Linked DNA regions of Homo sapiens: region 1 is linked to region 2. The links come from fine-mapping of genetic effects on gene expression. A gene starts in region 2. The other region holds a variant in brackets. All regions are shown on one strand. Distances are from middle to middle.

The links. PIP is the estimated chance that this variant, and not a neighbour inherited with it, causes the effect.
Region 1: its variant is fine-mapped to the expression of ADGRL3 in subcutaneous fat (GTEx, PIP above 0.99).

Annotation. Positions count from the first base shown.
Region 1 is chr4:60,714,944-60,730,495 of GRCh38, reverse strand. No RefSeq gene overlaps it. Among named protein-coding and RNA genes, the nearest start is that of LINC02496, 28 kb to the left of the region's middle. RefSeq lists an enhancer at 5,320-6,519. The variant TG/G (reference allele first, on the strand shown) is at 8,703.
Region 2 is chr4:61,191,430-61,206,981 of GRCh38, reverse strand. It overlaps ADGRL3 (adhesion G protein-coupled receptor L3), which reads right to left and starts at 6,656. Exons shown (of 27, transcript NM_001387552.1): 1 at 5,217-6,656. LOC124900173 reads right to left here and starts at 7,895. Exons shown (of 3, transcript XM_047416555.1): 1 at 7,808-7,895; 2 at 5,217-6,840. The coding sequence starts at 7,895. The coding sequence ends at 5,666. RefSeq lists an enhancer at 3,938-4,510.

The DNA of each region.
Region 1 (15,552 bases), 480 kb after region 2:
ATGCTGCTATAAAGACACATGCACACGTATGTTTACTGTGGCACTATTCACAATAGCAAAGACTTGGAACCAACCTAAATGTCCAACAACGATAGACTGGATTAAGAAAATGTGGCACATATACACCATGGAATACTATGCAGCCATAAAAAATGATGAGTTCATATTCTTTGTTAGGACATGAATGAAACTTGAAACCATCACTCTCAGCAAACTATAGCAAGGAGAAAAAACCAACACCCCATGTTCTCACTTATAGGTGGGAATTGAACAATGAGAACAAATGGACACAGGAAGGGGAACATCACACACCGGGGCCTGTTGTGGGGTGGGGAGAGGGGGCAGGGAAAGCATTAGGAGATATACCTAATGCTAAATGACGAGTTAATGGGTGCAGCACACCAACATGGCACACGTATACATATGTAACAAACCTGCACATTGTGCACATGTACCCTAAAACTTAAAGTGTAATAATAATAAAATTAAAAAAAATAAATAAAAAATAAAATAAAATAAAATAAATGAAAAAAATATATATATATTCCCTAGAAATGTATATTTTATAGGCTATGTAATATCACAGCCTCTGTTTTGAGGTTCAGTCCAACGTATACAAAGCCCAACATAGAAGTTACCTGTTAATTCTTTCTAACAAGCCAATGATTCTCAACTTGAAGTCCTGGCCTCCCTATGATCACAGAGCTATGGTAAAGGAGAATGGAATTTTATAATCTGTAATGTATATTTCCATACAGAGAAGACTTAGATATACTTGCAGTAGAAAAAGCAGTAGAAATTGAATATTCTTGTTCTTTTCATGTAAGCATGTGAGTATCACTGAAGACACAGTTGTATGTCTCACCTTCTCTCCACCAGAAATTTCCAGGTCTTTGGAGTTTGATGAAAAAAATTATAGGAACTCAATTTATTTGTTGAGATATTAATTTTAATACTGAATGCCCTGTCAAGGTATTGGTTGGGATACACCTAATACTTAAAATAGTGGGCAAATTACTCTGCTACTGACAGGAATGTGATTACATGAAAAGTAATTCAGTGTGGGTGGTAAATGACAGGAGGAAGTTGAAAGAAGTTTTTTAAAAGATTATTTGTGAATCATCTCCTTAGAGGTAACTAATAAGAAGATGGAATCATGACTCACAGAGTCCTGAGGAAAAAAAAATATATTAAAAAGTGGATAACAGCTTTGGTAAGCAGTAGGGGCTCTTCTAGTTAAATTACAGAATGAAGAAAAGGAAATGAGGCATTAATTAGACAATAATTTCAAATTGGAAAATACAAAGTTAAATTGTCCCTGTTTGTAGATGACACAATTCTATACATAGAAAACCGAAGACTTCGCCACAAATTGAAAATAAACTTATTTAGCAAAGTTGCAGGATGTTAAATCAATATATAAAATCAGTAACTTTTCTATACACTAACAGTGAAATATTCAAAAATGGAAACAACAAAAACAGTCTCATTTACAATAGCTAACAAAAAATGAAATACTTAAGAATAAAGTAATTTTTCCAAAGATGAAAGATCTGCACACTAAAACTAAAAAACATTGATGAAAGAAATTGAAGAAAACACAAATATATGGAAAGATATCCTCTGTTCCTGAGTTGGAAGAACTAAAATTATTTAAATGTCCATATTATCCAAAGCTATCTACAGGTTTAATGCAATCTCTAGCAAAACCACAATGACAGTTTTCATGGAAAGGAAAAACAATCCTAAAATTTGTATAGAGCTACTAAAGGCTTTAAATAGCCAAAGCAACCTTGAGGAAAAAAGAACAAACCTGGAGGCATCATACCACCTGACTTCAAAATATACTGCAAAGTTATTATAGTAAAAACAGTATGGTAGTGACATATAAATAGAAAGACAGGCCAATATAACAGAAAAGAGAGTCCAGAAATTCATATATTTCTGGTCAATTGATTTTTGACAAAGGTGCCAATATCACAAAATGGGGAAGGGACAATCTCTTTATAAGTTGTTTGGGGGCAACTGGATATCCATATGCAGAAGACCAAAATTAACCCTTATGTCAGATCATGTATAAAAATCAATTCATAATGGATAAAGACTTAAAGGCAGGACCTGAAAATGTAAAACTACTAGAAGAAAATATAGGTGAAAATCTTGATGGCATTGGTTTGGGCAATGATTTTTGGATATGAACTCAAAACCACACACAAAAGAAGCACAGATATAAATGTGATTACATCAAACTAAAAAGCTTCTGCACAGCCTAGGAAACAATCAACAGAGTGAAGAGACAACCTGTGAAATGAGAGTAAATATTTGCAAACCATATATCATATAACTAGGTAATATCCAAAGTATGTAAGGAACTTAACCATGTAGTAAGAAAAATAACCTGATTTTAAAATAATCAAGGGATCTGTACAGAAAATTTTCAAAAGATAACCAGCAGGTATATAACAAAATGCTCAAAATCCTTAATCACAAAAGAAATGCACATTGAAATGACAATGACATATTGCCTCACGTCTGTTAGAAAAGCTATTACCAAAAGAAAGAAAAAAAAGGTAATAAATGTTGGAAAGGATGTGGAGAAAAGGGAACCATGGTACACTGTTGCTAAGAACATCAGGTAGTACAGCTATTACAGAAAACAATATGGAAGTTCCTTAAAAAAAAAAATAAAACTACTCTATGACCCAACAATACCACGACAGAGTATATATCCAAAGGAAATAAAATAAATATGTTGAAGAGATGTCTATACTCCCATGTTTACTGCAACATTGTTTACAATAACAAAGGTGTGGAATAAGCCATCAATAAATGAATGTATGAAAGAAAGTGTTCTCTCTCTCTCTCTCTGCATCAGTCTATATATGCACGTGCGCGCGCGCGCACACACACACACACACACACACACACACACACACACACAGAGTAGATAGAGGAAAATACATTATATTGGTAATTAGGACCTAGATTCCACATTTGAAACTCCCAGATTTCTGACACTTAAAAAAAATTCTTATATCCTGTTGTATGTCATAGCTTTTTCATTTGTAAAATGGAAAGTTTAATTTATTGATTTCCAAGACTATAATTATAAAATATTAGAATTCTGAGTGTGACAAAAATGTGAAAGAAAAAATTATATGTAGTAATATAAATGAAACAATTTTGATTTTTCATGCACATTATATTAAGAAATATACAGTATATGATTTCAATAATATTGTTAATTACCTATTTTCACATATAAATATTGAGCTATGCACATTCTCTAAAAATGTCTTTTTATACTTTTTATATCTTCTACCTGCAATAAAAAAATCTTAGAACATAGGCCAAATGAAAATGTACAGAAAAATAAGACTTTGAGTGATATCAATCATATACTTTGCTCATCTGGATGCAGCAGAAGCATGGATTAGTGGCATAGCCTGGGTTGAAGCCAAAGGACATCACAATAAAGGGCCTTGAGCCTTTCCTCTGGCCAGATGTGTACATGAGGCACATGCTTTCTTTCCTAGATATGTATCTCACTCTGGGAAAGAGCCAGACAAACAGGCCTATGCCTGAGATATTTGAGTGACTGAGAAATTTTTCCTGGTAAGACTGATCATTGTCTAAATGGAATCTTAAATCACAAAACTGGATTTACATTATTCAAATTATTAATATAATTTAAATTTGTCAAATTTGAAAGGCTCTTTAAATTTGTTAAAAGACAAAAATTCAACAAATTTTGTTTAAATATCTAATTGGCCTTCATTAGCAATTTGTGAATCAGAGAGCTTCTCATCTAAAGATTTACAAAAGGCACTCAGATGAGCTGAGCAGAGGAGACTGGCTTTATAGGCAGAAAGGGCTGAAGAGATTAGAAAAATGGAACACAAAGCAGATTGGCTAGCATTTGTTAGATTACTCCAGGTTTCTTTCCTTTTTAGGGTTAAAGCAGAGGAGACGTTTTGTTTTTTATCATGTCTGATAAAACAGGAATGTTTGGGGATTTGGCTATTATCTTTCTCTGTTCTGATTTCTTGGTAAGTCAGATAAACAACTTAGTGTCAGTTTGTTAAATAAAGAAGTTTAGCACGAGTGACTCCATTTTGGTTTTGTCTGTTGAAGCCTAGTGCAGGAACTCAATCCAAACCAATGACTTCCTATAAATTTATTTAACAAATTATTGAATTGGATTAAGTTTTAAACATAAAATATCCAAAGTAGAAATTTTTCCTTTAACCCATAGTGAAACGTGGGGAGTAACAGACATTGGTTACAGGCAAACTAAATTAGGCATATTTCTCTCTGTATATCTGAGGTATTGTGAGTTTGATTTGGACTCCCATATATGCCACTTTATAAATCAGAGATCTTGGGCTGTATTCTCTTCCTGTTATGTTTAGATATATTGATGACTTCTAGAGTAGAGTATACCCTATATAAAAAGAAACAGCTTTTCATATGTGCCCAAGCTACAAAGTTCAAGGCAAGGGACCTTAGCGAGATCAGTCAAGGATTCATTGAGATTTCCAAACAAGAAGTTTAAACAACATGGCAGTGCACTCTAATAACTTATATAGCTGCATCACTATATGATAAGGAAGTTCCTTCTTAAATGTCTTCTTATTTTATTCTTGATGAGGTGTTCTTAATTTCCTAGTAGCAACCCTATCAATAGGAGTTAGGAATCCAAGGAGGTGAGGGTGGAGTAGGCATAAAATGTAAGTAGGTCATGTATGGCCCTTTATTTGCTTATTAAATAAATAACTGTTGATCACCTATGTTGTATCAGGCACTGCTCTGTGTGGTGGAGTTGAAAGGGTAAACAAGACAGACATGAAGTTTATGTTGCAATGAGGTGAGTTAGAGACAATAAAGCAACAAGATCATTTCAAATGGCATTAACTGCTATAAAGAAAATAAAACAAATTCATTTAATCAAGAGTTTGGGAAGTATGGAAGTTTGAAGCAGATGATGAGGGACAGACTCTGTGAAAAGCAATCATTTTTAACTAAATCAGAAGCATACGATAGGGTCAATCATATAACAATGGAGTTCAAGTGAGAATTTGGGCAAAGGAAATAGGCCACAGGGATCAACCTTGGTTACAGCAAGACAACAGAGATTAGTTTGGTTAGTGTGAGGGGCTGGGTGGGAGACAGGCGTTTGTAGAATTTGTCAGGGCTTAATTAAACAAAACCATGCTAAGTAGTTTGGATTTCTAAGTAGAATTATGTAATAGATAATATTGGTCCCCCAATTCCTTAGGATCTATATGACTATTTTTGTGCATATTTCAGTTTCTGTGCACTTTTCTTCTATGAATCTTGTTTGGAGGAATGTCCTCAAGATACTGGAGCCTGCCTGGTCCACACTTCAGAGAAATATCTGAAAATGTATGCCCACGATCTTCCACCCAATAATTAGATAATTAATAGGTGCAGCTTGTAGTTGGGAAAACACAGAGGCTGAATTTTCTCTTCAGAGTTCCTCTGTGGGATTAGGCTGAAGCTGCGCTTTACGGGATTTTGCCTGTGATGACACCCTCACTTGGATTTTGTCCTTTCTTGTCCTGCTTTCTCAGCTCTTCCCTGGGGACAGCTCCTTACCAGTTTCCCTGGGAACAATTTCTTATCAAATCACTTGCATACCAAAGCTCAGCTTACATTCCATCTGGGACACTCACCCTCTGACCAGTTGGAAGACTTTGGAGAAATCTAAAGAGAAAAACAAAAACTGACTAATGTTAAAAATATCACTGCGGCAGTTGTGTGAAGAATGGATAATGGGGGCTGGGGGAAAGCAGGGAATAAGGAACAAAGGTAGGCAGGTTGTATTAGGCTGTTTTTGCACTGTTATAAAACAATACCTGAGACTGACTATAAGAAAAGAAGTTTAATTGGTTCATGGTTCTGCAGGCTGTACAGGAAGCATAGCACTGGTATCTGCTTTTGGGGAGGCCTCAGGAAGCTCACACTCATGGTGGAAGGTGTACGGGGATCCTGGACATCACATGGCGAAAGCAGTGGGGAGAGAGAGTGGATGGAGAGGTGCCACACACTTTTAAATGACCAGATCTTTAAGAACTCATTCGCCATGGTGAAGCTACCAAGCCATGAGGGATCCACCCCCATGACCAAAATGCTCACAACCAGGCCCCATCTCCAGCATTGGGGATTACAATTCAACATGAGATTTGAGTAAAGACAGATGTCCAAAGTGTATCACAGATGAATGAAACCAAAATATTTCTCCTTGAAATATTGAGAATTGTTAAGTTAATGTCACTAAAAACATAGGAGAATGCTCTGCCTCAGCCTCTATTTGCCTGGTGGCAGGACATCGTTCCCTCCTTACTGGAGACGACACTTGCTTATGGGCCCAGGGAAGGCACTAGCAAGCACCAGAAGAATCTGGGAACAGATTTTACAATCTTTTCACATGTTCCTGCCTTTTAAAAGACTGGAACTGCTCTCTCCTCTGTCTTATCACTAGATAGGATTTATGGCTCTTTGTTAAAGTACTATTTAAGCAAGGCCCATAAACCACTACCTTGAGAGAGAAATACTTTTAAACTGAGGCCTCTCCTGCGTGATGGGTACAGCATGTTTTAATAAACTTCTGGTTGTTTTTACTTTTCTGTTAATTTGACTTTTTGTTTTTAGGAGATGTCTCAACTAAGAATTTTAAAAGAAACTATGATTTCTCCCCTACAATTTTTCAATGCAGCCTGGAAAAGCAGAGATAATTCACTTGTTCTGGGACCTATAGAGGGAATCCTGAAAGAGAACTGGCAAAAGTCCACAGAAAAAGGTAAGGTTTCTTACTCAAGCCAGCTTCTCCCTCTGTGGTACCTGGTGGAGAGAGGAAAGTAAATTCTTTTCCTTGTCCCTGCCTTTCCAGGTTCATATTAACAGGAAAAAAAATCTGTAAAAAATGGTTATTTGAATTTGTGACTCTTGTAGATTTGTTGTACATACTTATTTGGTTATTGATTTGTCATTTTCCTAGGATGGTCTTTGTTTTCCTTGTTTCTGTATCTTCGTATGGTTTGTCATGAGAAGAAAAAGCCTCATAAGGTTCTCCTTTTGTCTTGTTTTATTTCTTAAGAAGTTTGGCTTTCTAACGAGCAAGTTTATTTTCTCATCTCTAACACCTTGAAGGGCACAGATTTTGTTAATCGTGTAAGGCAGCCATGTGGGAGTTCAGTTGGGGGTCCCAAATGTCTGTTTGTCCAAATGTGCCAGCTTTTGGGAATTGTTCTTAATTATCTCAACTTTCATTGCCTTGCTAATAAGGAGGGATATTACTTTCTTAGAGCCTCTTTTTGGTTTATTTTATCTTATTTTTTTCTAGAAACAGCGTATCGCTCTCTCACCCAGACTACAGTGCAGTAGCATGATTATGGCTTACTACAGACTCAATCCCCTGGGCTCAAGTGATCCTCCTGCCTCCGCCCCCTGGAGTGGCTAGGACTACAAGCATGCACCAGCACACCTGGCTAATTTTTAAATTTTTTGTAGAGATGGGGGTCTCACTATATTGCCCAGGATGAGCTCAAACTCCTGGCCTTTAGCAATCCTCCTGCCTTGGTCTCCCAAAGCACTGGGTTATAGCCTTGAGCCACTGCACCCATACTCTTTGGAAGAAACTTTAGATCTTGAGGGGTCACTACGTTTTTATACTCTCTTTAGGGATGCTATTCTTGCATCGGATTGTAAGCCATAAAAAGGCTTACTGGCCCAGCGTGGTGGCTCACGCCTGTAATCCCAGCTTTTTGGGAGGCCAAGGCAGGCAGATCACGAGGTCAGGAGTTCAAGACCAGCCTGACCAACATGGTGAAACCCCGTCTCTACTAACAAAATACAAAAATTAGCTGGGTGTGGTGGCGTGCACCTGTAATCCCAGCTACTCGGGAGGCTGAGGCAGGAGAATCATTTGAACCCAGGAGGCGGAGGTTGCAGTGAGCAGAGATTGTGCCATTGCTCTCCAGCCTGGGTGACAGAGCAAGACTTTGTCTCAAAAAAAAAGGCTTACTGGTGCTAAGTTACAATTAAAAGTGGATATACCTTTGAAAATTTGGACTTTTGTATCTAAAAGTATTTTTTTAAAGAGAGCCTTCTCAGTCCCTTGGAGTTGTAAATTCTACCACGGCTTTAAAACGTTAACATAGAGGAGATCAGTTAAGTAGTATTCTAGCAGAGATCAGATTTGAAAGAGAGTTACATTTCAGAAAGAAAAAGCCAAGGAAACAAGGCACAAGAATATTTGCCATTTGCCCAGCTAATATCTGCTAATTTTTTAAAGACTTACATATTTAAAATTTTACCTATAGTATACATATATTTAGGTTATATATATATATGTGTGTGTGTGTGTGTGTGTGTGTTTGTGTGTGTGTATTCTTAAGACTTCTGTTCTCTCTCTACAGAGGCTTCTCAGTTGACTAAATTCCTCTCTTTGTAAATCCCTGCTAACTATTAATCTATAAACTCCCTCTGCCTGTTTATCCTCTTGGTGACATAATTTTTGCCACAAGGACTTGCTCTTTCATTTACTTTTCTCTGTCCCTGCTTCCAGTTGCTATCCCTGAGGTCACATGAGGAAACCTAAGGAAGATTTCTAACGACACTAGGACCTCTTGAGAAAAACAGAAAAGATGCCAAAGAAAAACAGAGAGGTTTCCTTTTTT[TG/G]GGAAGGAAACTTCATTATTTTCTCATGGAACAGCAATATTTCTAAGTGGACAGATTCCTTGCAACTCCAAGAGTTGAAAGTAGACAAATCTAAAGCTCTCTGCTCTTTTGTATTAAACTCCTTGATCTCTTTGGCTTTTAGATGCATATATATGTGCATATGTATTTTATATGTTGTATTTACATGTATGTATATGTCTATACACATATTTGTATATTGTCTACATGGTACCAAATTAACTCAAAGGCAGATAAGTACCCATAAAGAAAATAAATAGCCCAAATATTTTTCAAGCTCATGTGATGTGAATACATTTTTTTTGATGAATAAGACTAGTTTAAAATTCTTGGTTTAATAAAAAGAACTATGTCTTGAGCTATTAGCAAAACATACATGTGTTTAATTTTTTTTGTTGTTGTTTTTTGAGACGGAGTCTTGCTCTGTTGCCCAGGCTGGGGTGCAGTGGCGCAATCTCGGCTCACTGCAAGCTCTGCCTCCCAGGTTCACGCCATTTTCCTGCCCCAGCCTCCCAAGTAGCTGGGACTACAGGCGCCTGCCACCACGCCCGGCTAATTTTTTTTTTCTTTTTTTTTTTTGTATTTTTAGTAGAGATGGGGTTTCATCGTGTTAGCCAGGATGGTCTCGATCGCCTAACCTCGTGATTCTCCCACCTCGGCCTCCCAAAGTGCTGGGATTACAGGCGTGAGCCACTGCATCCAGCCACATGTGTTTAATTTTAAGGTTCTTTATTTTATGGTACTTGCCTAACATATGGTAATATAAAAATGGTGAATAGAAAATTTAACTTGAGATGATGGCTAGATTTATCTAATGTCTCATAAAATTTTCCAACCATAATTGTTAAGATTAAATAAATAAAATAGATGAAAGTGAGATAAAGCTTATAAATGAAGTTTTAATCATTGCTTTTATGTTTAATGAAAAATATTTCTCAATTCTTTATGGTAACAATAACCTAAACATTTTGCTCAGCTAAGTTAAATGATAGATAGTCATTAAATATATACATCATTTTCAAAAAAGATGAAATGCTAAGACACTGATTACTAAATCTAGGCTTCTTATTTCAGAAAGACAAAAGATCTTTAGATATATTAGTAAATATATTCTGTTCCACGTTGAAAAATAATTCCATTAAAAAGCTGTATTTCTAAAAATCATAAAATGTGTATTAATAAATTGCTAGTACATGACTGACAATTAAAAATTATCCACTTCTTAGGTATTCACTATAAAGATTCCTAAAAATTAAAATTCTGGCTAATATGTGGTCACTAAAAGTTGCAATAAAAAGGGAAACAATTCTGTATACAGAATATATAATAAATGTAAGACTTTTTCATAAAGGAGATTATGACATTTGAAACTATGTTTTTGTTAAAAAAGTGATTTTTTTCTAGTTTATATGTCACTTTAGAATAAATGAAGAAAGGAAGCAATTAAATAAACTAAGTGGATATAGAAGTTGGAGAAAAAGGAAAATTGAAAAACATTATAAGACATAGTAAAAGGTTTAGAGAAATCTTGTGTGGTCAAAACTAATTAAGATTGGATGGATTTATTTATAAGGTTTTATTGAAATTATATTTAGTATGAATAATACAACTGATACAAAGATAGAATTTGATTTTCTCTTTTGAATACGATTTTTTTGTATATTATTAATAAGAGATAATAGAAGACTTTGGTTTTCCTTTTGAGAAAACTACAAAAAAAAATAAAAACAGAGAGAAATGTTTGTTTCACCCTATCTTTATTAGGTCTTTTTTTCAAAAAACTCTGTCTCCTACCAATCAGAGAGTAAAGGTTTTTACTTTTTGGAATCTGTTAATTATCACTTTGACTAAATAAATGATGATTATTTCACAGTGACCTGTGATCCTATTGTGATAAAGTGTTTTGTACCTTTGACACATTTGACAAGCTTCTCAAAATCAGATTTCAAATTCTAAATTAAGTCTTTTTGACCTCAAACTAACTTTTAGACATTCAAAAAAAGAGACAGAAGTCCAAAAGAGACATATTAGGCTTATTTGATATCTTAAATTATAGGGGAAGCATTGTCAAATAAAAAATAATGTTTAACCTTATTTGTGTTATATTTATATAAATGTGTTATTAATATGTGCTCCAAAATTGTATGAGATTTTTAAAAATTATGATACGTCTTGGTATATGTTACCAGTCAAAATTCTGATTATTATATTAAATTGTTGTATGCCTTAGAAATTACCAAATTTCCTTGTCAATTGCATCCTTAGCCATAGCTATTCTAAGGGTTTTGTCATCCACAGGCATTTATTGTTTTACTTTTATTCTTCTCAAAAGACTGTTTACAATTGGCTATAGTATAAAATTTGCTTCTTATTCAAGAAAATTAATGGAAAAGGATCATGACAAATACTTTTAAATATAGATTTCTGATAACTTTGTAGATCATACCATTGGACTGTGTAAAAATTTTAAGAACTCAAATGAAAACATTGATGGGTTCATAAAGATTACTAGCCCAACTTTTAGAAGAACATGACTTAATCACATAGGACTAAACTTGATACAGGAATAAAATGATTTTTTCAGGACTTCCTTTTGCTTAAATTATTATTGATTATTTTTATGTATTTCTTTCTGGAGTCAAGGAAACTATTTTCTTCTAATAAGCTACATATAGCATGCAGCAATTGGGTAAAATATGCTTTTGTCAGCAAAATTTAAACATTTGCCTTTGTCTCTACTTGATTCCTTGAGAATTTAAAACTATTTGTGGGTATTCATATTTTAAAACAATATAGTTATTTCATAAGTTCAGTAAAATTTTTCTTTCTTTAGTGGAACAATTTAAAACACAGGTTATGTTACTGGGGCCTTGACTGGGATGTCACATTTTCTGAAACGACTAGACTACTTCAAGAAACTAAAATTAATGCTAAGGAACCATTAACATTCTTGAAAGAACTGGCCTGGTACCTTGTCTATGCATTTCCCCTGCAAGGCTTCAGCATTATGGTAAGTAAAAAATGTCACTTTCTGACAGGCCCAGGAACCTCAAAATAATATGGGACCTCAAGAAAAGAATAATTTACCCAGTTACCACAGATAAAATCTGATGAGAAGTCCATGGCTTGGCTTCCTAGCCTAAAGAAGTTTTAAAGGTTTACTCTGAGATGTCTTATGATAATTTCCAACAAAGTAGATTAAAGAAAAATGAGCCTATGTGGCCAATCACTATGCTTGCTTCACTTTATGCAAATAATTAGGCCAAGTATATTAAAGCTAAAACTTATTTTACAATTAAATTAGTCTTACTATAAATATCTTTAGTGGCTGGGTGCAGTGGCTCACGCCTGTAATCCCAGCACTTTGGGAGACCGAGGCAGGTGGATCACCTGAGGTCAGGAGTTCGAGACCAGCCTGGCCAACATGGTAAAACCCCATCTCTACTAAAAATACAAAAATTAGCTGGACGTGCTGACAGGCGCCTGTAATCCCAGCTACTCGGGAGGTTGAGGCAGGAGAATCACTTGAACCCGGGAGGCGGAGGTTTCAGTGAGCTGAGATAACGCCATTGCACTCCAGCCTGAGGGACAAGAGTGAGACTTCATCTTAAAAAACAAAACAAAACAAAACAAAACAAAAAAAAACCTTAGTAAAAATTGGCTTAATTTTGAGTGTACACACACACACACACACATATATATGATTTTTGTAACACATTGTATATATAATAACATCATATATGTTTTTAAAAAAACATCTTCTATGTGGGCCAGGTGCGGTGATTCATGCCTGTAATCCCAGCAATTTGGGAGGCTGACGCTGGCGGATTACCTGAGGTCAGGAGTTCAAGACCAGCCTGTCCAACATGGTGAAACCCCATCTCTGCTAAAAATACAAAAATTAGCCAGGTGTGGTGGCACACGCCTTTAATCCCAGCTACTCAGGAGGTGGAGGCAGGAGAATTGCTTGAGCCTGGGAGGCGGAGGTTGCAGTGAGCCGAGATCGTGCCACTGCACTCCAACCTGGCTGATAGAGCGAGACTCTGTTTCAAAAAAAAAAAAAAAGCCATCATATGTATGTGTGTGTGTGTGTGTATGTGTATATATATACACATATATATACACACATATATATGTGTATATATATGTGTATATATATATGTGTGTGTATACATATATATATATATACACACACACACATATATATACATAAATGTTTTTTAAAAATCCTCTACAGCATACCTGTTATTAGATTCTAGCCCTCTCCATTGTTAGGTTTTATTAAAAACATTTTCTGAACTAAATTTCAAGTTGTAGTTTCTTCTATTATCTGGCCTCAACTTTCTAGACTAATGCTTTTAATTTATCTCCCAGTTTCCTGACTTAAAATCACTAAAATTTAAACCATGCTTTTCTGAAGCCCTACAAGCTAAAGTTAGACAACTTGATATTAACTTCAGAGAAAACACACATAAATGTATTTATGGACAAAAAGTTCACAGAAACATCTGGTACAAACTATTATCTAGGAAAATTTGTCAGATTGTCACTGTTTACTTCCATCGCAATTGTAGATATTTCAAACACAAATCTGAAATTTTCTCAGCTAACTGCCCTCCAAAACTCAAGCCTAGTTTGTAGGTTGCTCCAGATATTAATCTCTGTTTTTCTTTTGCTCCCATAGCAATGTTTCTTACTAAATACCTGTTTGCCTATACCATATAGAGAATTAACTCTAACAACAACCCACTTACACTACCACCTCCTGAAATAAAACACAACTGCTCAACTGAACTTACTATTCTCAAGACTAAAAAACTGTTTCATTAGGATATATGACATTTGTTCTTTCTTCTGCTTCCATGGTTTCTCTTTTTGCCAATCTCTTATCTCAAAACCTCTAAACCAAATCCCTCCAAAGCTACCATCTTGCCTTTTCATATGTAAAGCCTTCTAAAAGTAAAGTTTCAAAAGGGCAACTGAAAAAAAAAAACAAAAACAAAATATTTCTACCCCAAGTACTGAGAATTATTAAATTAAAGACATTAGAAACACAGGGGAACACTCTGCCTCAGCCTCTATTGCCTGGTGGCAGGACATCAATCCTTCCTTACTGGAGCACTTATTATGGGCCCAGAGAAGGCATCTTTCTTCTCTCTAGAAAGGATTTATGATTCTTGTTAAAATGCTATTTAAGTGAGGCCCCTAAACCATTGCCTTGACAAAGAGATACTTTTGGACAGAGGCATCTACTGTGTGACGGGTATAGAAAATGTTAATAAACTTCTGCTTCTTTTGTTAATTTGACTTTTGTTTTCAGGATAGTGTCACAACTAACAACCTGAAAAAAATGTTTTCTCCCCTGTACAGGGTATTTCAGTAATCTGGACTAGATTGCAAGCTATAGATTTCCTAACGTTTTCTAAAAGGAGGCTTGTTCACCGGAGGGATTGTCATAAATGAAGCAACGAAGTGTAGAAAGAACATAATATATTCTATTTCTCTGTGTCAATCTAGAAATTAGAAAATAAATTATGCTTCACTACTATTTAATTGGTAGATTGACAGAGCACACATACTTATGCTTCAGAAATAAGTTAATATATTGGAGAATGCGTCAAGATTTTGTATTGAGGAGATAGGTCACCAAAAATCTTTGGAGAACACTGATTTTGACACCAACCAGCTTTATATTCCCTATTAACATGCACTCTATTCTTGGCAATTTTATGGAATGCTTTTCTTGTGTATGTGTCCCTAGTTAAATGTCTTTGTGCCTTTATCCTTCATTCTGATGGAGAAGATTAAATTATTTGGGTGCTCCTATAGGTTGGCTATTTTGAAGAATGAGGCTATTCAATTTCTTCTAAAAATGAATAACAATTTGTAGGGGTAAGTCAGATAATTCTCTATTATTTTCTGAGGATAAGAAAATTAAAAGTGTTCCAGATGCTTTAAGTGTAATTTTCCATCTACCATAAATTTACTTCGGAAGGCTTTTATCAAACAAGGTCAGGGCATTAGTGCTCATTAAGGACTATATACATGCACGGCTTGAGAATTCATCAGAACACCAATCAGTTGTTTGAACTCAAAGAAAGTCTATAAAAAATTGTTGTGCTGACTTTTTTCCTCTCACTCAACAATCCACTGCCCTCCTTTCCATCAGATATCCCTGTTTCAAAATGTACATTTTATTATTATTTAGGGATGGTCAGGGCAACAGATCAAGAGACAATGACTATTAAAAAGATTGTAATTTAGTGTTTTTAAGAGGAGGGAGGGGCACACCATATCATGGAAGGCCATGCAGGGAAGCACAAAGGACTGGCAGGAGTTAGCAGGAGCTGGAGGAAAATGAGGCAAGAGCCTTTAATGTGGTTTTCACGAGAAAGTCAAAGTAAGACGGGTTTAAAATTGGCTAGTTTAAATAACTTCAGTGGATTCTGGGCATAGGGGCTGATATGGTTTGAATGTTTTTTCCCTCTCCAAATCTCATATTGAAATGTGACATCCAATGTTGGAGATGGGCCTTGTGGGGGGTCTTTTATTCACGGAATGGTTCTCTCATGAATGGAAAGGTGCTGTTCTCGAGGTAATAAGTGAGTTCTCTTTGTGTGAGTTCATGTGAAATATGGTTGCTTAAAAGAACCTTGCCCTTCCTCCCTCTCTCTCATGCTGCCTCTCACCATGTAATGTGCTGGCTTCCTCTTTTCCTTCTACAATGATTTCAACCTTCCTGAGGCCCTCACCAGGAGAAGATGCCAGCAATACACTTTCCGTGCAGCCTGCAGAACTGTGAGCCAAAATAAACCTCTATTCTTTATAAAT
Region 2 (15,552 bases):
AGACACAGTCTTGGTCTGTGGACCAGGCTGGAGTGCAGTGACACGATCTTGGCTCACTGCAACCTCTACCTCCTGGGTTCCAGCGATTCTCCTGCTTCAAGCCTCCCGAATAGCTGGGACTACAGGCATGTACCACCATGCCCGGCTAATTTTTGTATTTTTAGTAGAGACAGGGTTTCACCATGTTGGTCAGGTTGGTCTCAAACTCCTTACTTCAAGTGATCTGCCCATCTCAGCCTCCCAAAGTGCTAGGATTAGAGGTGTAAGCCACTGCACTCAGCCTCTAAAATGACTTTTGATTATGATATCTGTAACTGTCACCATTCAAGTATTGATAAACTGGGAAAATTCTAAAACTTGAGAATACATAAGAACATATGACATATGCCATCAGAGCAATGATGCCATCACATATCATATACCTTCTGGAAAACTCCACTGAACACGTGTTAAAGAATATGAGTGAAAGGCAAATAATGTCTTAGCATTATTATAAAAAGGTTTTCTTTTCACATTTCCTCTGAAAGGGTGTCAGAGATCCCCAGGGTTCCCCAGAGGACACTTTGAAAACACTGATAAAACAGCATTGTTTGCTTTACAAAGTAACTGACATGGAAGTTTTGCCAGGCAGAAACATTCAGTTGGATGATTTATTTTTCCATCCCAAAAATAGTTTTCAAAATAAGTAGGATTACCATCCACAATATTCCATTTAAATTCTTGAATAATATGGACCAAATTTTCACTTCTTTTAACACCTATTTGTAATCACTTTTATGAAGACATTCATTAAAATTGAAACTAAGTTCCTGTTTTAAGTGTCAATAAGACATAAGGAAGACATGATTTATCAAGGTCTATAGAACCTATTATGAGCAAATATAGAAACGCTCCCCTTTTATCCACCCCTCAAAATAAATAAAGAAGTTCAATTAATTTCAAGTAGGACAGCTATTTTCTCTTTTACATTTTGTGCTTATGAATCCATAAGCACATGTCACAATTCTAAGAAAAAAGTTACACTTGGTTTCTTATGCAGCAGTAGAATTAATTTTATTGGACCATGCTGACACTCAGATCAGAGTAATGACATTCAAGATTTGGGGAAAAACTTGCACACCTTAGATGCATAAATGCTATTTACAAGCATGCTCACGCTACATTCTCACAATGTATTACAATGAATGAAAAATCTGGATTTTTCTCTCCATTGATCAACAACTCCCTAGCCTTCACCCTACCCTACCCGACAAAACACAGAAAGATAACCAAGGAAAAATGTCAGGAGGACCTTACTCATACTTGCAAGTTTTACTTTTTATTTAATTATAAAATTGGTTATTCTATGAAGAAATGCATTCGCATGAAATAAGAAGACATAAATATAATAATCTAAGTGTAAATATGTCCTGTGGGCAAACAAATAATAAATTACAATACAGCTGTATTCTTTAGGGTTCCTCCCAAAGTGAGCAAATGCATATTTTGAATATAATGCAAATCTAGGAAAGAGAAGGCAAAATAGCCATTTGCAAAACTTAAGGACAGATCATCCTTTTTAAATTCCAACTACTCTAGCCATTCACACCATGCTAAATTAAGGCTGCACAGCATTTCTTAAAATCACTGTTTGATCCTAAATATGAAAATCGCAATCAGTTTTCCTTGCTGATTTCTGGGCCAAAACTCCCCACTTCTAACAGTAACTGTCACTTCTACTTGGCAGTCCTTTTCAAAGAGAGTTTCAACCAACACTTAAAGTGGTCCAAATCCAATCTGAAAAACAATTCAGTTTTGCATCATATTATTTGACTAACTTCAATCCTCATGACTTTATAGTCTTTTTAATCTACTATTTATGATTTCCTTGGCTATAGCTCACAAAGGAATCAATGGTAAATCAAATCCATAAAAAAAATCTGCCTTTCCTAATTAGTAGAAACAATGCCAGCCACAGTAGCTGCAGCCAGTAAGTGCCATACTTGCTATTATTCCCTGTGGAAAAGAGTATTTAAATCTGCAAAATGTTAAGAAGATCATGATTAAGAAAATCATTTCTGAAAGACTTTCCATTCATATTTTTGAGGAGCACTCTCAGTCTGAAGGATAATCACACCAAGCAACCAAAAATGAGACATCAAAAGCATTTACCCATCAGGCAAATCACATACTGGCTTATCACTCTTCAGGCCGGGGATGCCTGATGCAGCCTAACATCTCTATCTAAAAAAAAAAATTAATAGTTCATATAAAACTTTGAGTTAATCATTCCTCCTACCCTGATTTTGTAGAAATAGTCTAGTCAACCATATACACAAATAGATCAGGTTACTGAATACTTAGTGATAAGGAAGAGCTATGGAATGGCATTCAAATACTCTGACACATTCACCTTCAGCTAAAGACAGCACAATACACTGACACACACAGTTCTAATGACATCAGGACCTGTGGAATGTATGACTGCTAGGGAACACATGCTGCTAGGAAACAAAGAACAGATCTGATCAAATCTTATAATGTAAGGACTGGGAATCATTGTGATTAGATCTTGGAAAATGGGAGGACAAGTATTCTTTAATCCTCAGAAATATTTGCAAGTATAAAGACTTTAATACGTATCATCTAGAAATGAAACAAATACGTGAAGCTAGATTCTCATGAATTAAATCAAAATTTTCTAAGTTTTCTATTAGGGTGATGGCCATTAGCAATATCTCTCATAAAAATATAACTTAAAGTCAGGCATCAGTGATTCAGTGTCTTTTGCAATCTATGCTTTTTCAAGAGGTCAAGGTCTTTAAAAAATAATGAAGATATCCAGAAATTATTGTACCTAAAAATAAAGTACACTGTTCCATTAACAGCCCTATACTTTTTAAAACAAAATAGAGCACAAGTATTTGCAACAAACACCAAAGCAGTCAGAGCTAATCTAGACCTAAGGAATTTAATACATTTTAATTATTGAAAGTAAAAAGCAGTTTCACTTGCAAAAGTAACACTTTATAAACTGTGTTTATCTATGTACAGTCTTTACCCTTGCTTTGGTTACAAAAAAAAAAAGATTGGGTGAAACAAAGCTGAGAGATAATTCAACACACAAATATCCTCTTAACTCCTATACAAATTATCTGGTATCCTATTTTGGTGATTATAAAAGAGCTGAGAATTCTATCCTATTTGTAATCCACATGCAGATAAATTGGGCGCCAGAAGTCCAGATCATTTAGAATCATTACAGATGGAAAAATATACAAAAGAAATCTTACCAAACTCTGTTTATTCTCATAGGGAAATATAGGAAAGTCTCCAAATGAAAAAGTGCTAAAGAAGTGTTTCTTTGCAGATTCTACGATGACATTCTTTAACTAGTGATGAAAGCCCATATGACACTAAAATTAGCAGACTGCCTATTTACTTCAGAGCAAAACACAGAAGGCAATTTTTCCTTCCTGCCAGAGTCTATGCGTCTCCTCATTTCCCCAGCAGCTGGCTGGAAGGATGTAAAATCAGAGGTGCAAGAAGCCTTATACTTCCTAATGAGTAATACAACCAGGAAAGTAAACACAACAGACGACAGCAGGTTAGACTCTAAAGGAGACTGTGGCAGGAGTGCTTACACCGTTGTTTACAATGTGCTCTAACTACCGCAGGCAGGGATCACACGCAGACACAGGGAGGAGACACCCTGGAGGTGGCTCGCAAGCCTCGAGTTCTCCCAACTGCTATGATATCTCTGGCCATAAATAAAAGCAGCGCATGTTTCTATCAGAGGTAGGAAAGTGGCCAGAGAATTCCAGGGACCAGGAGTTACGCTGGCTGGACTCGATTACTTCAACCTGCTGGAGAGATGACTACCCTATGAGGTTCTCATCAGGGCCATTCTGGGGTGCATCGAGCGCTGCACCAGCGACTCTCACGCGCCGCACGCATGTCGCCGAGCTGCGCCTCTCCAGGGGAAGGGGACACGGCAAGGTTTCCTCGCCACCCTGCGGGGGCCCCCGTGGCCTCCTCAAACCAGATTTTCCAGTTAAGAGGATCCCAGGCGATTTCAATAAGCAAGCTCAGCTCCAGCAGCATCAGCTCCGGCATCCCCGCAAATATCTCTCTGCCGTCCCTGGGGCGCAAAAATGCGCACACACTCAAACGCTGACTCCGCCGCCAAGTAAGGCTGGTAGAGGAGGTCGCCCCCACCCCTACACACCACACACACACGCACAGACACACACACACCCACCTATAGTGCTGGGGGCCTGGCACCCTAAGCTTCTGAGCTCCGACGTGGGACCGGAGGCTGGGTCGCGGCAGCTCAGACGCTGCGCTGCAGCCTGGAGCCTTCCCTTCTCCTCAGAGAAGCGCCGAGGTGCCTTCTCTCCTACCTGTAACCCGCCAACCGCGACCACCAATGCTCTGCCCACCCCGCCCCGGCGCCGCGGCCGCCCGGATTCGTGCAACACCGCCGCCCCCCGCCCAGTGCCCACTACCAGCACAGCGCAGCCCGGGCCACCCACGAAAGTGGCAGCTTTCTCCAGCCAAAACCGCCTAACAAAGCCTGGGCACGCAGGTCTAAACCAAACTGCCGTGAAGGAGACACAACAGGCAGGGCGCGGGGAGGCAGCGCGACTCCAAGACTCAGGGGCGCGACCTGGGCAAAAGGGGCCAGGGATGCTCCAGGCAAGCGTTGAGGGAGAATCGCGCCGGGCTCGGCACCCTGCATTTTCCATCTTCCCAGAGCCCAGCTTCTCACCCAGACCCTGTCCGTCCTCCAGCCCGCTCCCGCCTCCAGCGGCACCAGTTCCAGCCTGACGGAGAAAAGTCGCCCTCCTGTCCGCTTTCTGCCCCCACCAGGGGATGCCACTGGGGTGAGAGGAGAGGGAAAATTAACGGGGTGGGAACTGTTCCTATTCCCCAGCGTGTGCAGCTGCGAATGCGCCCAGTCTCTTATCCCCCTCACTCCCCTCGGCCGGTCAAATCGCCCAATGGCTGGAAAAAACTCCAACCCGCGCCAGACCCGAGCGCCCACCAGCCAGGAGGTTCCCTTCCCGCCCCGCACCACGACCGGATGAGTGTGTGTGTGTGTGAGGGCGAGTGTGTGAGTGGAAGGGCGAGTGTGCATGCACCCCGCACCCCCTCTTGTTGCCCGCCCGGTGGATGCCGCCGCCTGCGCCCGGCCAGGGCGACCCCTATTATGAAGAGTGCGAAGAATAAATTACCTTTCGTAAACGCCGGTCCCTGAGATCGTCCCATCAGTTGCTCAACAACCTGAAGGCGGGTGCAGTTTCCACAATCCAGCCATTGAGCCCGGGGCAAAAGACCGGCCGGCCCCTGTGCAGACACCCCCAACCACACGCGGCAAATAACGAGAATCGAAGCGCAGAGAAAGCAGCAGGAGGGTGGAGACCCCAGTCAAGGAAACAACAACAAAAAGTCTCTCTTCCCTTTCTTCCGCTACACAGCCACGGAGAAAGGGGAAGGAAAAAGAGAGCCAAATGTTCGCCTTCCTTTACGTTCCTCGCTTCACACACCCCAAGGGGGCAAAAGGGGAGCGAAAAGAAAAGAGGGTTCAAATGTCTCTCCCAGTCCACAGTTGCACAACTTCGGAGTCAGGCTCTGTCTCCAGCAGCAGCCGAGGGACCCAGCGGCAGCTATTAACATGCGGCAGTCATAGCTGGGGCTGCTTCTCCTTCTCTTGCTGCTGCTGCTGCCGCCGCCGCTTAAGAAAAGACGCTGCCGAAGAGACCAAAAATCTTCCACCATCCCCCCAGCCGATCTTTATATCCAGTTCTCCCACCCCACCCCCCTTCTCTTTCTTTTTCTTCTTCCACGTCCTCCCCTTTCCGCCTCGGAGCGGGAGCGATGGAATAGGTAGGGGGAGCCGCGAGGGCCAGGGGTGGCTTCTCCGCCAAACCGTCCTCCTCTTCGTCCTCCCGAGGCTCTCTCCCAGCCGAGGGTCCCCTCTCAAGCCCGCAACCTCCGCGGACAGCCGGAGCGAGAGCCACACAAACTCCTTCCCCGGTGCACGGAGGGGGCGCGCAGACAGAGCGGGCGCCCGGCCGCCGAGGGCTGCGTCCCGGGGGCCGGCGAACCCCGAGCCCGTGGGGTGGATGATTAGCTCGCCGGCCGGGCCGGGCAGCTGCGGGCATGTGGGAGCTTCATCGCGCGGCCCCGGGCTCTGCGCCGCCGCCGCTGTCTCTTCGGTTCTTTCTCTTCTTCGACTCCCCAAGAGCGAGCGAGGCACTGGCGCTCTCCAGACACGCACACTCACACACGCGCACACACGAGCGAGCTCCTGCCAAAGCAAACCGTGCAACCCGCGCGCGCGCACACCCGTAGGAAGAGGACCAAGGCAAAAAGAGAAGAAAGAAAGGGGAGGGGGCGAGTCACAGGCGGCGGTGGCGGCGGCAGCAGCTGCCGGAGCGGAGGCAACGAGCAGTCCGAGAAAAACCAGCAGCAGCGGCGGCGGCGGCGGCGGCGGCGCCCACCCCGACCAGCTGCAGCATCTGCATCCCCGCTCCTGGGAACTGGAGCGAGCGGTGCCGGGCCAGCAGGCGAGGGGGGCGACGCGCAGACAGCGGGTCAGAGCGCGGGCGCGCGGGGACCGTGCAGCCTGCGCGCGGGGTAGGCGCAGCCGGGGCCGGAGCGGAGGCCAGAATGAGCAGCGGTCGGGCGGGCCAGCGGCAAGAGCTCCGAGAGCCGGGGAGGGGGCTCGCGCCAGGGAAAGGGGTGGCCGGCAAAACCCGGATATGGAGTGCTCGTGGGCTCCGCGGCGCGGGCTCCACCTAGCAGTTCGGCAAACGCTTGGAGGTGGGAACGGGAGGGCTGCTACTAGAGGCTTCCCTTTCAGGGTTTGTCAGACAAAGGGTACCTCTCCAGTGGCTTCGAGGCCCGCCTCGGCGCTCGCTCTCCCTCTCTCTCTCTCTCTCTCATTCTTTCTCTCTCTCTCTCTTCCACTTCCTCCTCTGTCCCTCCCTCCCTCTCTCCCCCTCCCACTCTCCATCACCTCCCTCCCCCCTTTCTCCTCTTGTCTTCCTCTCCCACTCCACCCTAGGTGAGTAAACGACATCAGCTTGAAAGTCCTGCCAGTGTCTCATTTTTTCAGGTGCGGATTATTCCGTATTTTCATTATGCAAGTACCGAGTCTGAAAATGTTTCCTGCCTTTGGTCAATTTTATGTTCCTTCAAACTTAACTCGACCTGCAAGTTCATTGCACGGTTTAAAGTATCCCTGTCTGATGAACAATCGTGGAGATTCAATTATCTTATTTCACATCATCAATGGAAATTACCATAATGGATACAGAAAGGTGCGGATTCCAAAACCATGCCTTCTGACAGAGGAAAAGTCTGGTCAAGTTAAATGAGTGGCCTTGGTCAATTGCTGAACCTTTTGGTGCCTTCTTTGTAAAGGAGACTGTTGATTACATAATTTGTAAGGTCTTTTCCTGCTCTAAAATGTCGTGATTTCAAATGGCTAAGATGTTATTTTCTATACCAGTACACTCAAATCATTAAGATTTATCATATTCATTCAACAAGCACATTACATCCCTAGCTAAATTTCCCAAATTGTATTTCAATGTATACATTTAGAATGACCTAACGACTTCTAGGAGCTCTTTAAGAGGTAACATCAATCCTAGCATATCTGAAGAACCTGAAACCTCATTAGAATTAAAAACATACCCAACACAAAGTGACAGTTAAAATGTCATTCATTCTTTAAAGCTCAACTCCAATCCAACGTTCTCCAAGAAGCCTCTTCTCACCAAGACTCCTTCCCCAAAAATCACTCCTTTCATGATACCCTGTAACATTTTGATGACATCTCCTCTAACACCTATTTTATTCTGCCTTTTTCCTTGTTCCTTTTTAATCATTAATGGTTTGTCCATTTGCTTCTTCAGATTACAGTTTTTCTTGAATGCAAATGGCTAGTTTTAATCATCTGTATAAGGAAAGATTATATCTACAGTCCTTTGCGCATAGTTAGTCCTTTAAAAAAATTGGGGGTGGGAAGGGAGATTTAATGATATTGCTGAATTCTGACCAACTAGATGTTCACAAGCTGAAGTTATGCTACTTGAATTTGCTTAATACAGGACATCCATGAACTCCCCTGGGTACTTAAAGAAAATACAAATTGACATCTGGAGTCACTTGTTACTTAAATAGTTTTGGAAAGAGTAAACTCTAGCCAATTGTGACAAGAGGCTCTTATTTGTAAAGGAGGAAAAATGGAAGTTACTCAATTCATTTCTCAAATGCTTAATGGTTGTATTAAGTATAATAAAACAACCAAGTAATAAAAATAACATTGTAATAATATATATGATGACAAGTATAGATATTAAAGATTATTAGTGGTAGCATCAGAAACATTAAATACATATTTAATATTTATTTAGATCGATAAAAATATATAATGACAATATATAGATATTAAAGATTATTAGTGGTAGCATGAGAATATTAAATAAATAGTAGCTATAGATCAGTTTTTAGAATCATCTTTAACACAACAGAGGTCTGGAGGGATGCAGGAAAATGAAATTTCAAAGTAAAAGTTTTACATGTATATTTATACACACACATATGTACACACATAGATATACATATATGTGTATCTATATAAATGAAATATTAACTGAAAACTAAGCATAGTCAGTTAAATAAGTAATTGGAAGTGTTCACCACGGAGGAGTTGACCACAAATAAGCAAAATTACAAAGACAATAACGAGGGAGAAAGAACCAAAAATCGGGGTGTGTGAATAAAAATAACCAATGAGTAAAGAAAAGCAATGAAAGAAAGAGAATAGGTTAATGGTTTGTATAACTTAATCAAATGTCAAGGCAGCATTATTTAAGGCAGCTGCTTATATTTTAATCTCAAACTTCATGCTTCCAAGTCATTTTTAATCTCATGGACATAGTCTTCTATATCTGATTTAAGACATAAAACATCCCACTTCATTGCCAGGAAATCCATGACTCTTGCCAATGTTCTTCTAAGGTGAAGCTTCCATAAAAATAAAATAAATTCTGTGTCCTCTTAGCTACTGTATTTAACACCTATGTTACATATATTTAACACCTTCTTCTCAAGGAGAAGACATCATACAGATGATGTTTGAGCACAGATACTATCATATGATGTAACTCTGTGCAAACTAGAGTGGTTTTTTAGAAAGATGGCACTGTAGGCTTCAGCACCGTTAAAATTGAAAAAAAATAATTTTTACCAAAGGGAAAAGGGCTCTAAAAATGAAAAAAAAAAGTGATTATCTAATCAAATAAGATAAAGAGAATTAAAACATTTAAATGACTAATTAAAATTTTTAGACCAAAGACCCTTTCAAATCAATAAGAAATATACTAAGATCCCCACAGAATGGAAGTTTAGAAAAGACCTTAAAACCATCTGTTCACAGAATAAATACAAATGGCCAATAAATGCAAGGAAATATGTTCTGCCTATAGAAATCTAATACATAAAAATAGATCCATTTAGGAGATCTATCATGTTTCATGTTTTTACCATAAAATTAACTGAAATAGCAACAGTGCTCTATTACTAAACTCTAACGAAAGTGTGTTGAGACAGGCATGCCTCCATGCTAGTAATATATAGTGACACAATTGCTCTAGAAAGGAAGCTGACAATATGAAACAACTGCTTTATAGAATATATATGCCACTAAATCCAGTGTTTCTATGTATAGATATCTCATCTACAGAAAAAAGCAGAGATATGGACAAGGATTTTGTATAATGATATACATCTCAGCCATAATTGCTATAAAAGGGGAGAGGGTATGTAATGTTTACATATTCAAAGTAATCTTGCTTTTTTCATACTCAATAAAAGCCCCCTTATCGGAATGAAATCAATAGTTAGTGGGAAAAAGTTGATAAGCAAAAATAATTTTTTAAATGATGCATACATACTATATTAGTTAAGATTCAATTTGGCTTCAAGCAACAGAAACAAAAAGTAGCAGTGACCTAAACAAGACAAATTTGTTTCTTTTTCAAATGAAAATCTAGAGGTAGGTGGTCTAGTGCAGGTATGGCCCTCAAAAGCATTCCAAACTGAAATAGACACTTTGTCTTCTTGCTCAGCCATCTGTGGCCACTGTTGCTAATTTCAGTTCCAGCAATCACACCTACCTTGCAAGAGCAAGGACGAAAGGGAAGAAGGAGGAAGAGAAGAGCATTCTTGTATCCAGGGAAAATTTCCTAAAGTTGCATACACCATTTCCCCTTTCATTCCATCCTTTACATGGAAAATGTAGACTACTCTAGGCAGTCATGTGTCCAAGTGAATATCAGGATTCTTTCATGATTTAGCTCCTCCTCATCCTTTGGCTTACCATTGCATACCACCCTGGGCTGGGCTTGCATATATTAGTCTTTCAGTAACCAAATGTGTGGATAATGCAGACACGTGACAGTGCTACTCTCACATGAAATGACCTTCTACTTCAACCAGATGTAAGCTTTCACAGGATTTCAAATTACTGAGCTATTGCCATCAGGGACAATACTCTCTAATACTCAGTCAGATATCCGCAGACAGTTACTATCTTAAATGCTACTGGGCCTAAATTCACTGACAAATCAAGGTAATCAGAGTTAAATCACATCTGCAACGCAGACAGCAAAGCATAGCACTCAGACTCCTAGGATGCCATGGCATGATTAGAATTTTAAGGCATTTGGTATTCAGTAGAATAATGATGCAAATATGGATTACATAGGGCTATCAGAACATATTAGACTACCCTATGGGATAGCCCAATCCCAAGAAGCACTCAGTGACCCTTTCTGTACCCTGGGATATTTCTCAAAGGACCATTTTAAGTCTATAAAATCTTACCCAGATTATATTGCCCTGCTAATTTGGTATCTTATATTCCCTCCTTGCTTCAAGTTATTCACCCTTCTTCTTTTTCAATCCAAAAAAGACCCGTGAATTCTACATTCTTAATGACTTGGAAGCTTAGCTATAGATACAGATATCAATATAGATGTAAATCTAAATATTTTTAAACAGCTTCTCCTAAGTAGTAAACATTTTCCACATATTGACTTCTTTTCTTCCAATGGAAGTGTCTCCTTAAAACTCTTTATTATAATTTCTCAAATGTTTGCATACAGCATGCCAGTTCTGAAAGACTGTGAAAGCAACAAGTCTTTTTTTTCTTGTAACTTGGTTTTTTTCCTGTAACTTTTCTAGCTACCTTGTCTTAGATCCCACAGTTAGATTACCTTTCATAACTCCTCATTAGTTTCAACACAGAATGGTTATAGCTACTCACTATAAATGTTAGTGATAGTACCCTGCTCTAGTGGAAGTATTCAGCACTCAAAGAGTTGCGTTAAAAGTGTGACATCACGGTGCCTAGATTCTAGTCTCCAGAAATATAAAAGTATTCAAGAGCCCAACACTATTTTCTTAAGATCCTCTCATCTTTATAAGATAAAGTATACAAATATGTTTGTACTGTACTAATGAAAACATCGTGGTCAACCAGAGATAGTCAGTAATAACTGTCATAGTCTAGAAAGGAAGAAAATGGAATTTTTGATCCTTTATAAAACACTGCCACTTTTCTGGGCTCTGCTTTTCAGCCTCACTCCTTTAAGACTATAATAGACACAGATAGTAGATGCCTGACTCATAATTACCCCTCCTTCTCTGAGAACAGCTTCCACACATGATTGGGCAGATGTGTCTATGAAGTGGCCTTGTTCATACTATTTGGCCCTGACTCTTGGCCATGGTTGAAGGGTCCAGGTACAGGCAACTAATGCAGGCTTGGCTAATCAGAATTATTGTCAAGAATTTTTCAGACTGTACTATACCAAAGGTCTCAATATATTCTTGATGGTAAGGAAAGCTAAGGAGCTATCTACAATGGACTGGATGTTTGTGGCCCCACAAAACCCATATATTGAAATCCTAACTCCCAACATAATGATATTGGGAGGAGAGGCCTTTGGAAGGTAGTTAGGTCATGAAGATGGAGCCCTCATGAATGAGATTGGTATCCTTATAAAAGGGACTTCAGAGAGCTCACTTACTCTCTTTCTGCCATGAATAGACATGAAAAGCTGGCACTCTGCAGTCCAAAAGAGGGCCGTCACTAGAATCTGATCATGCTGGCACCCTGATCTATTTCTCAAGAACTGTGAGACATAATTTTCTGTGTTTATAAGCCACCTAGGCTATGGTACTTCATTTTAACAACCCAAATGGAATATGACACTTTTCACAGCTACATTATCTGCCACATGGTGGTATCTAAACCTGACTTAGTGCAATATTTTCCTGAAGAATGCAATCAGATTAAAATAAATATTGCTAGACTTTATCATAAATTCCTGTTTCTTTTGAATGCATATTTTAAATCCCAAATCAGATAAGCATAGGGAAAATTCTGTATGGATATGCAGTTATAATGCTAACATGCAGTCTGTGTTATGGTGATAGCTAGGAAGTTAGCTTCTCCTTCAGATTACCTACTGGATTTCCTTAAAATCTGAGCTCATGGAAGGCATACAGCATTACTCTTCTGAGAATGTTGGTCACATTATTTCTGCAGTACTCTCAGTTAGATGATTTTCTCATATCTGACATCTTATTCTATTATATGGCTCACCTCTTTTCCTATAAATAACAAAAATAAGATTGATCAGAAAATAATGGTTATTCTCCACTCGGAAATATGAGGGGTCTTCAAAATGTTCACAGAAAGTACATATTATTAATAAAAACTATGCATGGATTTCAAAACTTTACTGCACCAAAATAAACTCATACTAACTTGTTATAACATGACTGATGATGATCTCATTTAAGGCTCTGAGAAAGGTAAAACAAAAGTTTGAAAAGAGCCCCTAGCAGAGAAACATGCATTCTGCTACAATTAAAGCAAAACCAGTCATCAAATTTATCATGACGCTTAGGTAGAAGAATGGTGAGCTCACTGAAGCTTTAAAAAGTTTATGACAAGAATGCTCCAAAGAAACCAGTCATTTACAAATGGATAACTAGTTTTAAGAAGGGATGAGACAACGCTGAAGATGAAGCCCACAGACGCAGACCATCTACATCAATTTTCAAGGAAAAGAATTCATCTTGTTTGTGACCTAACTAAACAGGACCAATAATTAACAACAGAGACAATAGGCAAGACCATAGACATCCCAATTAGTTCAGCTTACACAATTCTGAGTGAAAAATTAAAGTTGAGCAAACCTTCCACTCAATGGGTGACAAAATCATTGAGCCCAGATCAGCTGCAGACAAGAGCAGAGCTTTCAATGGAGATTTTAAATAAGTGAGATTAAGATCCTGAAGAATTTCTTTGAAGAATTTTAATAATAGATGGAACATGGCTTTACCAGCATGATCCTAAGGACAAAGCACAATCAAAGCAATGGTTACCAAGAGGTGGAAGTGGTAAACTTCCCAGGACCCTCAGTTCTTTAGGAATGTACTAAATGGCTGGGATCATTGTTTACTAAAGTGCCTTGAACTTGATAGAGCTTATGTTGAGAAATAAAGTTTATATTTTTTACTTTTATATTTTAATTACATTTCCATGAATTTTAAGTCCCTCATACATTGCTCAGACCCATAGCAGGTATTCAATAAATGTCTGGTGAATGAAATAATTCAAGATAAGTGCTGTATAATATATAATATTAAATACATAAGATGTATAAATACATCAGTATCTATTAAACTATGTCTGATTAATATTAATATATCTATCATTCTCTTAAGATTATAGATTAATAGAATTTATTCATCTAAATGAGAGTTATCAAATTCAAATTAGTCACCTTGTCCAGGAGAGGCTGCCGTTACTCAAATCAAGTTGAATCCTTTTGAAATCTCTTTCTACTGTGGCATGATTTGGAATAGCCTTAAGATATGAACAAATCTCCTGATTTTAAAGTGCATTTGATTTTTTGTTTTGTTTTATTTGTTTAATGGTTTGGAATCAACGGGGGGAAAATCATTGGCATTAAATAACTGGAATAGAGCTTGGCAATCATCTAATTATGTTATAGAGTCAGAAGACAATGTTTTTACTCAAAATAAATAAGAATGACAATTTTTTTCTTATGGTTTGATTTTAGACCATAACCTTCTTTAATGCAAGGAGCATAACTTTCTATGTGCTAGGGCTTTTTTTTTTCATTGTAATTAATCCTCCCCCAAAACAAGCAACGTGGGCATTATTTCTACTTTATTAACAATGATGTTAAAATACGGAGGATATAATGACTAAGGCTAAAAAATCCAGTAAAGTATATACCATATAAACATATTTACTTTACTGACTCTCTGCTTACATGGTGGAGATTCCAAGGGCAAGTTTTTGTAATGAGAAACTTCCCCACTGGCTACAGTTTATTGGATCAGGGAGGGAAAGGGGTAACTTCCTTGATTAGCAAGCTAATCAGTTCTTCTTAGGGAAGTTGGAATTGGAGCTAAGAGAATCATTGTTTCTTTCTCTCAACAGGCCATGTAAACTATCTAACTGTGGTGTGGCCCTCTTTTCTCTGCCATAGCAATTCAAGAATCAGAGGTGATTTGCTCTTGATGGGAGACATGAACTATTATATCATCAGTTGAACCTGCTTTTAGCCACTGAGCAGAGGTAAAGATAATAGGAATCTGCAGAAAGCGGCTTGAAGCACATGCAGAGAGAGGAGCCCAGATGAAATGCAGGGAGAGATTTGGGGTGGTTTTCTGAATCTTCATTTTATTTCTTTCCTAAGATCCAACTACGTGCCTATACTTAGTTTCTAGAAAACAGCCATTGTAATGTCATGGTACATTCACCTTTTGATGAAGCCAGCACAACTTCATAGCAGTTATTAATGGGTTTTGTCTGATCATTTATCTCTTTCCACTTCTGGAAATAGCATGCCTCTTCCTTGGGTATCCTTCTACTCTTCATTTTATGTACTAGTAATGGTATGTCCATCATGATACCCAACCCACATAGGAAAGGCAAATTATCCAGGCCACATAAAATATTGCAACCAGCTTTACCCCAGTGATTTGTTTAGGGATAGCCACAAGACTTAAACCAGGCTTCCCTGGGTCTTTTTTTTTTTTAATTATTATGAGCACTGGAATAGATAAATATTCCCTCCTTCTCTAGCATCTTTTTAGTTAGAATGATGCAAACCAGAAGCATTTATTTATTCATTCATTCATTTATGTGCTTATTTATGTATTTGTTTATATTGTTTCATGTTGCCTCTCAGAGATTTAACAATTAGGAAAATAACATAATAATATTCTCTCAGTTTATCTCACTAAATGGTCAAAAGATTGAACATGCACTTGCCAACAGCTTTCTATATTCTTAGGTTAAGCTATTCAATATTAGACTTAAATAAGATATATTAGTTATACTTATGCAAAGTGCCATGAAATAAAATTCCAAATCTATACTGTAATATCCCACATAAGGATATGCATATTGTGTTTCTGATTTTTCTAATGATTGAGAGAATCCTG